Homo sapiens: one gene and its partners. The protein of the gene in region 3 purifies or fractionates together with the protein of the main gene of each other region. This does not show direct contact. Each region holds a gene or a part of one and is shown on either strand. Other genes may lie near its edges. The genes, in order: EXOSC9, PKM and MPG.

Region 1 (3,649 bases), on a different chromosome or scaffold from region 3:
TGGTTTTTAACAGACATGATAAAAATGTAATTAGATTTGAGGTTAGGAAAATCGTAGTATTAAATGTTAGAGTGGTTCTGTTTATTTAAAGTATGTGTTCTGTTGTTAAACGACCCACATAGTATTTCAGATGTTTGGCTTAAATTTTCTAAAATATATTTTTTGTTGACAAAGTACAAGGAGTAACTGCGTGTTTTAACAGCAAGAAAAAATAATTTGTACACAATGTTACTTTTCCTGATAAATAGCCACTGGTTGTAATCAGTTAGGATTTATTTTTATTTTAAATTCACTATCAGGTTTGGCAAATACGTGTAGACCTACATTTATTAAATCATGATGGAAATATTATTGATGCTGCCAGCATTGCTGCAATCGTGGCCTTATGTCATTTCCGAAGACCTGATGTCTCTGTCCAAGGAGATGAAGTAACACTGGTAAGCTCCTATGTGAACCAGGATCCTTGATATGAATGAATGAGGAGGGTCTTAAATGTGCAGGCAACTTGTTTTTAGTGAAGTTATGTTGTAGATGGCAATTGGGTCGTTTCTAAAAATTTGTTTGTAAGACTGAAACTGCATATGGTCAAAATTGCCCTGGAAATCTCTTAACCGTTCCTCTGTTGAAACATTTGTCAGTAAGAACATACCCTAGCCTGGTTTTCCAGAATAGAATTAGATGACTATTTTGGATTGAACATTAGATGAAGTGGTTGACTTATGTTTAGGGGCCATATGTGTGAAAAATACATGAATCTCAGCACAGTGAGATGCTTACCCTGCAAGAGGCATGCAATAGCTGAAAAGCACTGAGGAATCAGCAGGTTCATATTTGTCTCCAGGACTTTTGTTCATTAGGCAAAGAGATGACGAAAGTCCATCAGAAATACCTGGAGGGCTTGTTAAAACGTATAGCCAGACTACTCCCAAAGTAAAACAGGGCTAGGACTTAAGATTTTGTACTTCTAACTTTGAGTTCTTAGGTAATACTGATGTTGCTGGTCCAGGGAGCACATTTTGAAAACCATTGACCTACGTTGTCTTTATCTTTTGTTCTGAGTATGTCAGTTTTGATTTATATAAATTACATGCTAGAATAGTGAAAGTGCACTGTAGTTGTAGTTTGAATCCTGAAGTTGCAAAAGGACACATCAGATGCCCAGATTTTCTAAGCAATGATTCATAATTTTGATTTTGGGCAGTAGACTGAAGCAGAACCATTAAAAAGTGAGAAATAGGGACAAAGGTTTATTAACAGTAGAGGTAATATTCTTTTAGAGGAGGGAGTTTATATAAGGAAGTGAAAAAAAGTAGAAAGCGATTACTACACTTGAAAAATCAATTAAAGAATACTGTGGTGTTATTGCTAGTGGGAATGTAAAATGGTACAGCCATGTTGGAAAAGTTTGGTAGCTTAAGTTTTAAGTGTAGACAGCATTCTATATTCAGAAAAATAACAGTAGAAGAAAATATTCTTTTTTTTTTTTCTTTTTTTTTTTTTTGAGACAGGATCTCACTCCGTTGTCCAGGCTGGGGTGCAGTGGCGTGATCTCGGCTCACTGTAACCTCTGCCTCCTGGACTTAAGCAATCCTCCCACCTCAGTCTCCTGAGTAGTGGGGACTACAGGTATGTGCCACCCACTTGACTAATTTTTGTATTTTTTGTAGAGATATGGTTTCACCAAATTGCCCAGGCTGGTCTCGAACTCCTGGGCTCAAGTGATCCTCCCACCTTGGCCTCCCAAACTGTTGGGATTACAGGCATGAGCCACCATGCCCAGCTGAAAACACTCTCTTATATGTACATCTTTCAGCAGGTTTGACCTTGTAATTTTTTTTTTTTCTTTTGAGACAAAGTTTCACTGTTGTTGCCTAGGCTAGAGTACAATGGCGTGATCTCGGCTCACTGCAGCCTCCGCCTCCCGGATTCAAGCGATTCTCCTGCCTCAGCCTCCCAAGTAGCTGGGATTGCAGGCATGTGCAACCACGCCTGGCTAATTTTGTATTTTTAGTAGAGACAGGGTTTCTCCATGTTGGTCAGGCTGGTCTTGAACTCCCAACCTCGTCCACATCGGCCTTCCAAAGTGCTGGGATTACAGACGTGAGCCACTGCCCCCAGCCGACCTTATAATGTTAAAACAAACTGCAATGGCTTAAAATTAGAAAAAAAAAAAAAAATTCTAGCAATTCCATGCCTAAGAATCTACGGGAGGAATAAGAGCTTACTACGTTCAGAGACTTCAATGCAAGTGTTCATAGCATCATTTGTTAGCCAGAAACTGGAAACAATCCAAATGTCCAGCTGGTGAATAGATAAAATGTCATATATACAAATAATGGAATGCTGTTCAGTAATGAAAAGAACTGAACTACTGATAAATGCTGCAAGGTGCATGAAACATGCTAAGTTGAAAGAAGCCAGGCACAAAACATTACAACTTTTTTTTTTTCCATTTATATAGAATGCTCAGAAAGTCAGATTTATAGAGACAGAAATAAGATAGATCAGTGATTCCTTGGGGCTAGGGTGGGAGTACACCAGACTCCTACGGACTACAGACAGATTCAAAGGAATTTTGGGGAGTAATGGAAATGTTAAAAAACTAGATTGTGGTGATGGGTCCGTAAATGTATCCATAACTATACATTTACTAAAAATTGAATCATATACTTAAAATGAGTGGATTTTGGCTGGGCGTGGTGGCTCACACCTGTAATTCCAGCACTTTGGGAGGCCAAGGCAGGTGGATCACCTCAGGTTGGGAGTTCGAGACCAGCCTGACCAACATGGAGAAACCCCGTCTACTAAAAATACAAAATTAGCCGGGCGTGGTGGCACATGCCTGTAATCCCACCTACTTGGGAGGCTGACATAGGAGAATCGCATGAGCCCAGGAGGCGGAGGTTGCCGGGAGCTGACATCTTGCCATTGCACTCCAGCCTGGGCAACAAGAGTGAAACTTCATCTCCAAAAAAAAAAGTGGATTTTATGGGATGTAAATTATGTGTCAGTAAATTTTTGAAAAAGCTTTTTGAAAAAGTTGTACAGTTTGAGGAACGTGAGTGGCAAAATCAAACTGGTAATTAATTAAAAGAAGTTATTTAGGTACTCAAAAGAATAAAGGAACTTCATTTTTTAGTATTTGATGTGCAAGATGATTTTTTTGGATGTTCATAACTTAGTGACTATAATTATTAAACATTTTCTTTTGAAACAGTATACACCTGAAGAGCGTGATCCTGTACCATTAAGTATCCACCACATGCCCATTTGTGTCAGTTTTGCCTTTTTCCAGCAAGGGTAAGCCTCGCCTTATTATGGGCCAAAATTACAAATGCAGCTAGGAATTTTATTGCTCTACTCAAGTATGTCATGTTAATATTAAACAAACACTTCCCTTAATAGTAAAGCACCTTGTATTTCCTTTCTTTCTTTGTAAGGGCATTAGTTGGCAAAGAACTTTCTCAGTAGAAGTAACAAAACTCTTATACTTTGATGAAGATACTTCCCAACATTTTTCTTTTCATGGGATACTTATAAACTTAGGAATTTACTATGGCATGGTAGTGTTTTATGTTTCCTAAGGCTGTACAGTGGTTAAGAGAATTATATGCTAGGCTCTAATTTGGGACAGTGGGGTGAGAATTAC
Region 2 (3,649 bases), on a different chromosome or scaffold from region 3:
CCGGAAGCCCAACCCCAGAGAACCAAAGGTATGACCTGATATTCAGTGGCCCCAGCCAGGTCTTTACAGGAAGACCCTCATATCTCAGGTCTAAGAAGAGCCAGCTGATGGTTTTTAAAAAGAGTGGAATTAGTTACTCCAACCCACTTATTCAGATCTTATTTTGTTCACAATACAGTCCCTAGATTGTAGGCCCATTGGAGGCCACAGCAAAGCCTTTGTGTTCCAGTTGGCCTGATGTGCCATCTCTCAGTAATGTTCCCTTAACAGCCAGACTTCCCTAAGCCCAGCTGGGAGCTCTGAAGGTATGCGAGCCCTCCCTCAACCATGAGTGTAGGGAAAGGGACCAGGGGCCCCAGGCTTTCCTGTCAGTAATGCAGAAGTTCCTCAGATTTAGGGAAGGGGGAGCAGAGGCATAACTTTGATTCTGACAAAGAGGCATTCAGAGAGACTGAAAGGTCATTTAACAAACACTGGAATGCTTCCACATACTAGGTGCTAGGAGATACAAAACCATATAGGTCCTGGAAGGGAGGATTGATTTTTTCATTTTGGTACGTAGTAGATATTAGGGGCTTAGGAAATACACATCGAAATGAAGAGTGCATTTGCCATGTTGAACCGTTAGCCGGTATCTTATTTCCCCATTTTAAAAGTTTTAGAATCTGTGGTTGAGGACTTGTGGCCATCAGTTTTCCATAGCCAACAGACTGTTCACTACTGCCTTCAGAGCTCCTTGGACCTCAGCGGGCCTTCTTTGGAGATGGCAGAGATGGATTTAGATGTATACTCTACTCGAGCCACCCAGAGAGCCCACAAAGTCAGAGATGGAACAGGGTAAAGGAGTAAGGGTCATATGTGTGAGATGCCTTGATTTGGAACTTTGAGATTTAGGATGAGGTGGGGAAGGGCTAAAGAGGAGCTTGTTCCTGAGCCTTGCTTGGCCGAAGCATTTAGGCTCAAGCGTTTTAGAAAGAGTAGCCCTTGGTCTGAGAACTCAAGGAAACAGCTTTCTGATGAGACGTGTAGCAAGCTTCTGGTTCACATCCTTACCTGATAGTTCTTCAAACACTGCCTGGTCTGGTTCACATCCTTACCTGATAGTTATTCAAACACTGCCTGGAAGCTTCTCCTGAGTTTTTGTCTCTAATCAGCTAACTAACAGGCTGAGTGAGTTTAGTTGTAAGTCATTAATGAAGAAAGCAAAGGTTGGGGCCATTGTCAGGGTTGTGACCTGGGCTAGTTAATTACCTGGAACTGATGGTCTGTGTTACAGAGTGGTGGTATACTTGTCAGGCTTAGAAAAGAAATCAGGATGTGTATCAAAAATCATTTGGGGAAAAGATTTGACCAGCAACTTTAATTTCTCTATGTTTGCAACTATCCTGTTAATGTAGTTGTGATAATTTCAGAATTATACCAGTGCCCTTATGTTATCCTTGCTTTGCAAATTGCAAATTGCTTTGCGTGTCCTGACATCCTTCTGGCCAACAGTAGATGTGGTTTTAGGTTTAGACTCCTGGGATGGAAGCTTTTGCATTCAGGGGAATGACTTTGGGTTTGGGTGAGGATTGTAAAGAGGCAATATGGGTGCCCCACGACAAAGCAGCTATTTGTAGCTTTGTGACAGCTTGACATGCAGAGATCTAGGCTTATCAAGGCACTAAGCTAGGAGTCAGTTGTTTGTATCACTGGAAGATTGGTTACAACTTCCTTCATTGGAAGCTCCTTCAGTGCATGTTAAATGATGTTATTTATAGATAGGGTGGTGAGAAAGCTGTCTAGGTAGATGTCAGTCAGCCCAGTGTAAGAGAGACCTGCTTACTGTGGGTGCTTGGGACTATGTGGAGTGGGTGGGAGGTTTTAACTTGTTCAGTAAGGTCCTTTCCATTGTTCACAATCTGGTGAACCCTTTTTCTAACATGAGGAGCACCCACATAACCAGATCATGTCTGGCTTCCCTGTGGCTTGTGTACAAAGCGTGCTTATTGAGTTAATGTGTAAGCAGGAGACAGCCTTCTGTGCTAAATGGTATATTAACCACTTCTCAGTCTTACCACTCTCTTTCAATTTGTCTCGACCCAGGACCTCAGCAGCCATGTCGAAGCCCCATAGTGAAGCCGGGACTGCCTTCATTCAGACCCAGCAGCTGCACGCAGCCATGGCTGACACATTCCTGGAGCACATGTGCCGCCTGGACATTGATTCACCACCCATCACAGCCCGGAACACTGGCATCATCTGTACCATTGGTGAGTGGGTGTGCCCCTTCCCCCAAAAAAGGGCTTCATGGGCAGTGACCTTTCTCTCCTGAAAAGAGTAACTAAATGTCCTAACAAACCTAGGTGCTACATGGGATACTACACAGATTCTTATGAAAGGACTCAGGTCATAGGAAGTTGCAGTAAAGAATTAGTATGTGCATAGGATGGCAAATACAGTTAATAAGAGAGTATTAGACATTTCAAAATTGCTAAGATGGCGAGGTATGGTGGCTCCCAGCACTTTGGGAGGCCAACGTGGGAGGATTGCCTGAGCCTCGAAATTTGAGACCAGCCTGAGCAACTTAGACCCTGTCTCTCCAAAAAGTGAAAAAAAAAAAAAAAAAATTAGCTGGGCATGGTGGCATGCACCTGTAGTTCTGGCTACATGGGAGGCTGAGACAAAGATCACTTGAGTCCAGGAGATTGAAGTTGCAGTGAGCCATGATCACACCACTGCACTCCAGTCTAGGCAACAGAGCGAGATCCTGTCTTAAGAAAAAAAAATTGTCCGGGCGCAGTGGCACATGCCTGTAATCCAGCACTTCGGGAGGCTGAGGCAGGTGGATCACCTGAGGTCAGGAGTTCGAGACCAGCCTGGCCAACATGGTGAAATCCCATCTCTACTAAAAATACAAAAAAATTAGCCGGGGGTGGTGGCGGGTACCTATAATCCCAGCTACTTGGGAGGCTGAGGCAGGAGAATTGCTTGAACCTGGGAGGCGGAGGTTGCAGTGAGCTGAGATCTGACCATTGCACTCCAGCCTTGGCAACAAGAACGAAACTCTGCCTCAAAAAAAAAAGGAAGAAAAAAGAAAAAAACATCGCTAAGAGTAAATTTCAAATGTTCTCACCACAAAAATGTTAAGTATTTGAAGTCATGGATATGTTAACTAACCTGATTTAATTATTCCACATTGTATCCAAACTGTATGTATTGGATTACATAACTTTGTAACCCAAATTATAAATTACCAGTTTATAATAAAAAATAATTTGTTGCAAAAAGAATCCATATGGTTTAGGTTTTATGCTATAGGCAAAATTTAGAAGATGTTTTCCTTAGCAGGTCTTTGTAGGAGCAACTTAAAGACCTAGGAAAGATCTTTCTAACATGTTCTGTGCTACCAAGATTCTGTGGTTGGACATCTGGCTGGGTTTCAGTGAGGGTGGAGAAGGCTGGCCAAGTCTTAACCTAGGCTTTTCTGATACAGTGGGAGCCTGCAGAACTTGAAGGAAATGGTCGAAGTGTCCCAGTAGATCAAGAAAGTAAGCTGGCACGGTAGTAGCCTTCCATGCACTTTTTAAAGACTTTTGAGCTATTTGGGAGAGGAAAAGTTTTCAGGGAAAAAAATTCTTTAAACTTAAGCAAACTTAAATGTTTTTCC
Region 3 (3,749 bases):
GCCCACATTCTAGGGTCTGCTCCTTTAGCACCCAACTCCTGGCACTGGTATTTCTCTTCTGGTTCTTCTTGGTGATTATAACCTAAAAGTAGGCTCATTAAAGGACAAAGGGAAGGCCTTGGAGCCTCTGGAGAACCAGAAAGGCAGGCCTGGGGCTTTGGCATCGAGGACCACCGCCACCACCTCGCTCCCAACAGATCCAGCCAAGATGCCACGGCTGTGTGAGCATCTGCTCGTGGGGACAGGCTGCACCGTAGGCCCCACCAGGATGGGACCTGGGCAGTCCCTGCTTCTTACTCCAAGTCTGATTGGCAGAGCCCAGATCCTTGACCTACATTAAGCTGCAGGGGCCCTGGGAAGCCAGCACTGCACTGTGAGCCACTACAGCGGGAAGGGGCAGCCCGACACTGGCCACAGCCACAGTTCCCACGTGTGGAAAAACTGAGGTGGATTGCCGGTGAGGAAGGCTAACGGTGCAAGTGCTCCTGCCCTAGATGCCCAGAGCCGGGGGCAGACAGTGGCACCCCTGCTCCACCCTGGGCAAGCAGCACTGACAATCTCTACATTCTTCCCAGATGACCTCAGGCAACTGAGATGAAGCTAAGCAGGGACCAGTGTGAGCAAAGCCGCTAAATGCATGAGGACAAGGAGGACTAACTGAGGGCCAATCCAGCAGGCAGCGGACAGGGGTTCAGGGACAACTGCAGTGACAGGCACTTCAGGAGGGCCCTCGCTGCTATGTTCACATTACCTGTCCCAGAAATGCCCGGGCCAGGGGGACTGCCGGCTGGTCGAAGAACTCCAACCCCAGTCGGGTAAGGTGGCCCTTTGGGCTTGAGAAATAGATGCTGCGGTATGGGCCCGGAGTGGTGGGCGGTCCCAAGCAGCGCTCCCTGGGGCAAGGTGCCTGGGCTGCATCGGACGAGCTGTGTGGCTGCTCTGCAGGTGCCTGGGCTGCGTCGGACGAGCTGTGTGGCTGCCCTGCTCTAGCTGGTCGCTGCTTCTTTTGCCCCATCCGTCGGCAAAACTGTAATGGGAAAAAAAATAAATAAGCATCCGAATAGGAGACAGCTGTGTGGTAAGGTCAGGCTCAGGAAGTGCAAGGACTGGATCTGACCACCTGCTTTGGTTTCTTCATCTGCAAAGCGGGGGTGACCATCCTGTGGGTTGTTATGAGGCACAAACACCCTGACACACTCGAGGCCTCAGGAAATGATCACGTCTGACGATGGACGGCTGCTGCTGGGGGCAGGGTGGCTGCTCTGCCCCACATATGTGCGAGCTGCACGGCATGGGGGCCCAGGCTGCATGACCTGGGGAGCAGATGGGGGCCTGAGCCTGGGACAGCAGGGCTGGTGCCCTCCGATTCCCACTCATCATGCAGGTCCCAAGCAAACGTCTGAGCTGGTTTCTGGAGCCCTGCCCTTTCATCCAACCCTTGCCAGAATTCAAAACACAGGATCTTAGCAGGGCCAAGGTCGGACACACAGGGAGGGGTGAGCACCGGGGTGACCACCGCGTGCTCAGGGTCCCTAACTGTCCTCTGCTTCATGGCCCAGGCTGGATAACGAGCAAGTGGGGCAAAGGCAAGGTCTCCTGAGGGACTAGGAGGGTCTGCTGAGACCGAGCAGGCCGCCAGCCTCCCACCTCTGGCCTCCCCATGGGTAGGGGGAACCTAACCACACATCCTCGGCTGTCCTGGGGCAAAGGAGAAGGGAAGATGAAGGTGGCGGGTGAGCGCCGGCCTGGCAGCACCCGGAGGGCTGGTCTTTAGCAGCACCTAAGTCCTCCTGGCATGGGAGAGATGCATTATTTTTAACGGGAGTGCTGACGTTAATGTAGAACGGAGACTGCCAGTCGGCCTGGAACGGACGCTGACGTGACCGTCTCCGCAGCTCGGCCCGCGCTGCCAGCGCGCCGTGGGTTCAGCCCCCGGGCGCTGCGGCCACTGCTCTCGGCCCGAGCTTGGCCCTTGGCCTATGCTCTGGCTCTGCCCCGAACCCTCGGGGCGGTGGGCGCTACGCCCGTCCCCGGCACTCCCGCTCCCGCGGCCGCGCTCGCTGCTGCGCCTGGGGGTGGGCGCGTCTGTTCCGCGGGGCGGCCGAGGCGCGCGCTCACCTGGGCCCCGCTGCGCGCGGGCATCCGGCGGCTCGGGCCGGGGCTTCGTGGGACTCGGACCCCGGCGCGGAGCCCAGCAGCCGCCGACCACGGAAGCACCCCTAGGACCGGGGCGGAGCGGCGCCTGCGCAGAAGGGGACGGAAGCCGGGAGAAGGGGGGCAGTGAGCGCCGGGAACTGGCTGCGCCCCCGGGGCGGGGCGGGCCACGTGGAGGTGGATCCTCTTCCCAGCGCCCACCGCCAGGTCCGGACCGATTCCCGGGCCCGATGCGGTGCCTGCGAGGCGAGAGCGGGGAAGGGGCACCTGGGGGTGGGGCGAGCCCCGCACTGTGCCCCGGCGCCCCTCCCAATGAGCTGTCCGCCCCCGCCTGCGCCCTGGTCGCCTGGCGGCCCCAGAGCCCACTCCACCAGCCGGTGGTCAGACCACCGAGAGGACGGGCCCGTCGTGAACCTGAGTGGATCCTCGAGGGGCCCGGGCGGAGTGGTCGTGCTTTGGGGGAGGGGGCGGGCCGCAGACGTGTTTTCCGGTGGGGTGCCAGCGGAGTGAGCGCCTGGGAGGCCGCCCCAGCCCTGGTCCGGAGTGGGCCGGGGAGTCCTTATCCAGGAAGTGGACGCCAGGCTTGTGCGGAGGCCCCCGCCCCTGGCCGGGGTTGTCACAGGCTGGTCGGGGGAAGGAAGGAGGGAGCGGCGCGGATTCTGCCTCTGCAGCAGAGCCCCCATCCCTCTTTCCGCCCAGGGATGCTGAAGGGAGCTCGCCCACGTTCTGGGTTGGGCCTGCTGGAGCGCAGGCAGCCTCCTCTAGAGGCCGAGGCCAGACCAGGGCTGAACACGGCCCGGCAGTGCGCAGCCGTCCTACGCTTCTGAGGCCTCCCCGACGGCCCAGCGCCTGTAAGCTCTCACAACCTCTCAAGTCAGATCCATGCCCCTAGGGAGGGGCAGGGACGGTGCTTGGCCCAGTGGACGGAAGGGCCTAGGGGACGGGCCCTGAGGGAGCTGGGCACACTGCTGGCTCCCACGGCCCATGGCAGCCCCAGCACCCAGCAGAGCCATCCCCCGCTTCTGGCCACTTGAAGGTTTATCTGGGTCTGCAGGGCCCCTCCACTGTGGCAGGCACAATCCCACCCCACAACCCACCTCTGCCGCACAAAAACCCTCGAGGGGCTTTTCCTGAGCTTTGACTTCTGTGACCCTGGTCCTGGAAAGGAGCACCTGAAAAGGCCTTGAAGAGCAACTGGGCACCTGGCCGCGTCAGGTGGGAGACGCTGGGCAGGACAGACGCACAGGCCATGTGTCTGGAGCCCTCAGATGAGTGTGACACCTGGTCCTACAGAAAGGCTAACAGGGCAGGACCTGGTCTCCAACTGCCTCTCCTCCTCTGACCAGCCGTCCCACCCCCATGGGCCCCAGCCAGGACTTCCTGGGGAGGGAGGGGCCATCAGCCGGCTGGAAGCCACCAGCTGTTTGTAGCACTGTGTGCCGCTTCCCGGGGTGGGGGCATAATGTGTCATCAATCCGTGTTTATAAAGCAGCCCTGGATGTGATTCCACACCCTCCCTGCTTATCTGCAGCCATGCCTCCCAAACAATGAGTCTCTCCTTCCTGTGGGAACAGCCCCCCATCCCCCCGAGTGCT

Evidence for each region.
Region 1: the proteins of MPG (region 3) and EXOSC9 purify together in Homo sapiens (affinity purification with mass spectrometry, with the first as the bait; one study listed by BioGRID). This does not show direct contact.
Region 2: the proteins of MPG (region 3) and PKM purify together in Homo sapiens (affinity purification with mass spectrometry, with the first as the bait; one study listed by BioGRID). This does not show direct contact.

The regions. Positions count from the first base shown.
Region 1 is NC_000004.12:121,804,323-121,807,971, forward strand, and holds part of EXOSC9 (exosome complex component RRP45), read left to right. Parts: intron 1-299; coding exon 300-437; intron 438-3,217; coding exon 3,218-3,300; intron 3,301-3,649. UniProt on the Homo sapiens protein: Non-catalytic component of the RNA exosome complex which has 3'->5' exoribonuclease activity and participates in a multitude of cellular RNA processing and degradation events.
Region 2 is NC_000015.10:72,217,547-72,221,195, reverse strand, and holds part of PKM (pyruvate kinase PKM), read left to right. Parts: coding exon of another isoform or gene 1-28; intron 29-2,085; coding exon of another isoform or gene 2,086-2,098; coding exon 2,099-2,252; intron 2,253-3,649. UniProt on the Homo sapiens protein: Catalyzes the final rate-limiting step of glycolysis by mediating the transfer of a phosphoryl group from phosphoenolpyruvate (PEP) to ADP, generating ATP.
Region 3 is NC_000016.10:76,703-80,451, reverse strand, and holds the start of MPG (DNA-3-methyladenine glycosylase), read right to left. Parts: upstream 2,228-3,749; 5' UTR 2,143-2,227; coding exon 2,119-2,142; intron 1,314-2,118; exon of another isoform or gene 1,160-1,313; coding exon of another isoform or gene 1,121-1,159; intron 1,028-1,120; coding exon 752-1,027; intron 1-751. UniProt on the Homo sapiens protein: Hydrolysis of the deoxyribose N-glycosidic bond to excise 3-methyladenine, and 7-methylguanine from the damaged DNA polymer formed by alkylation lesions.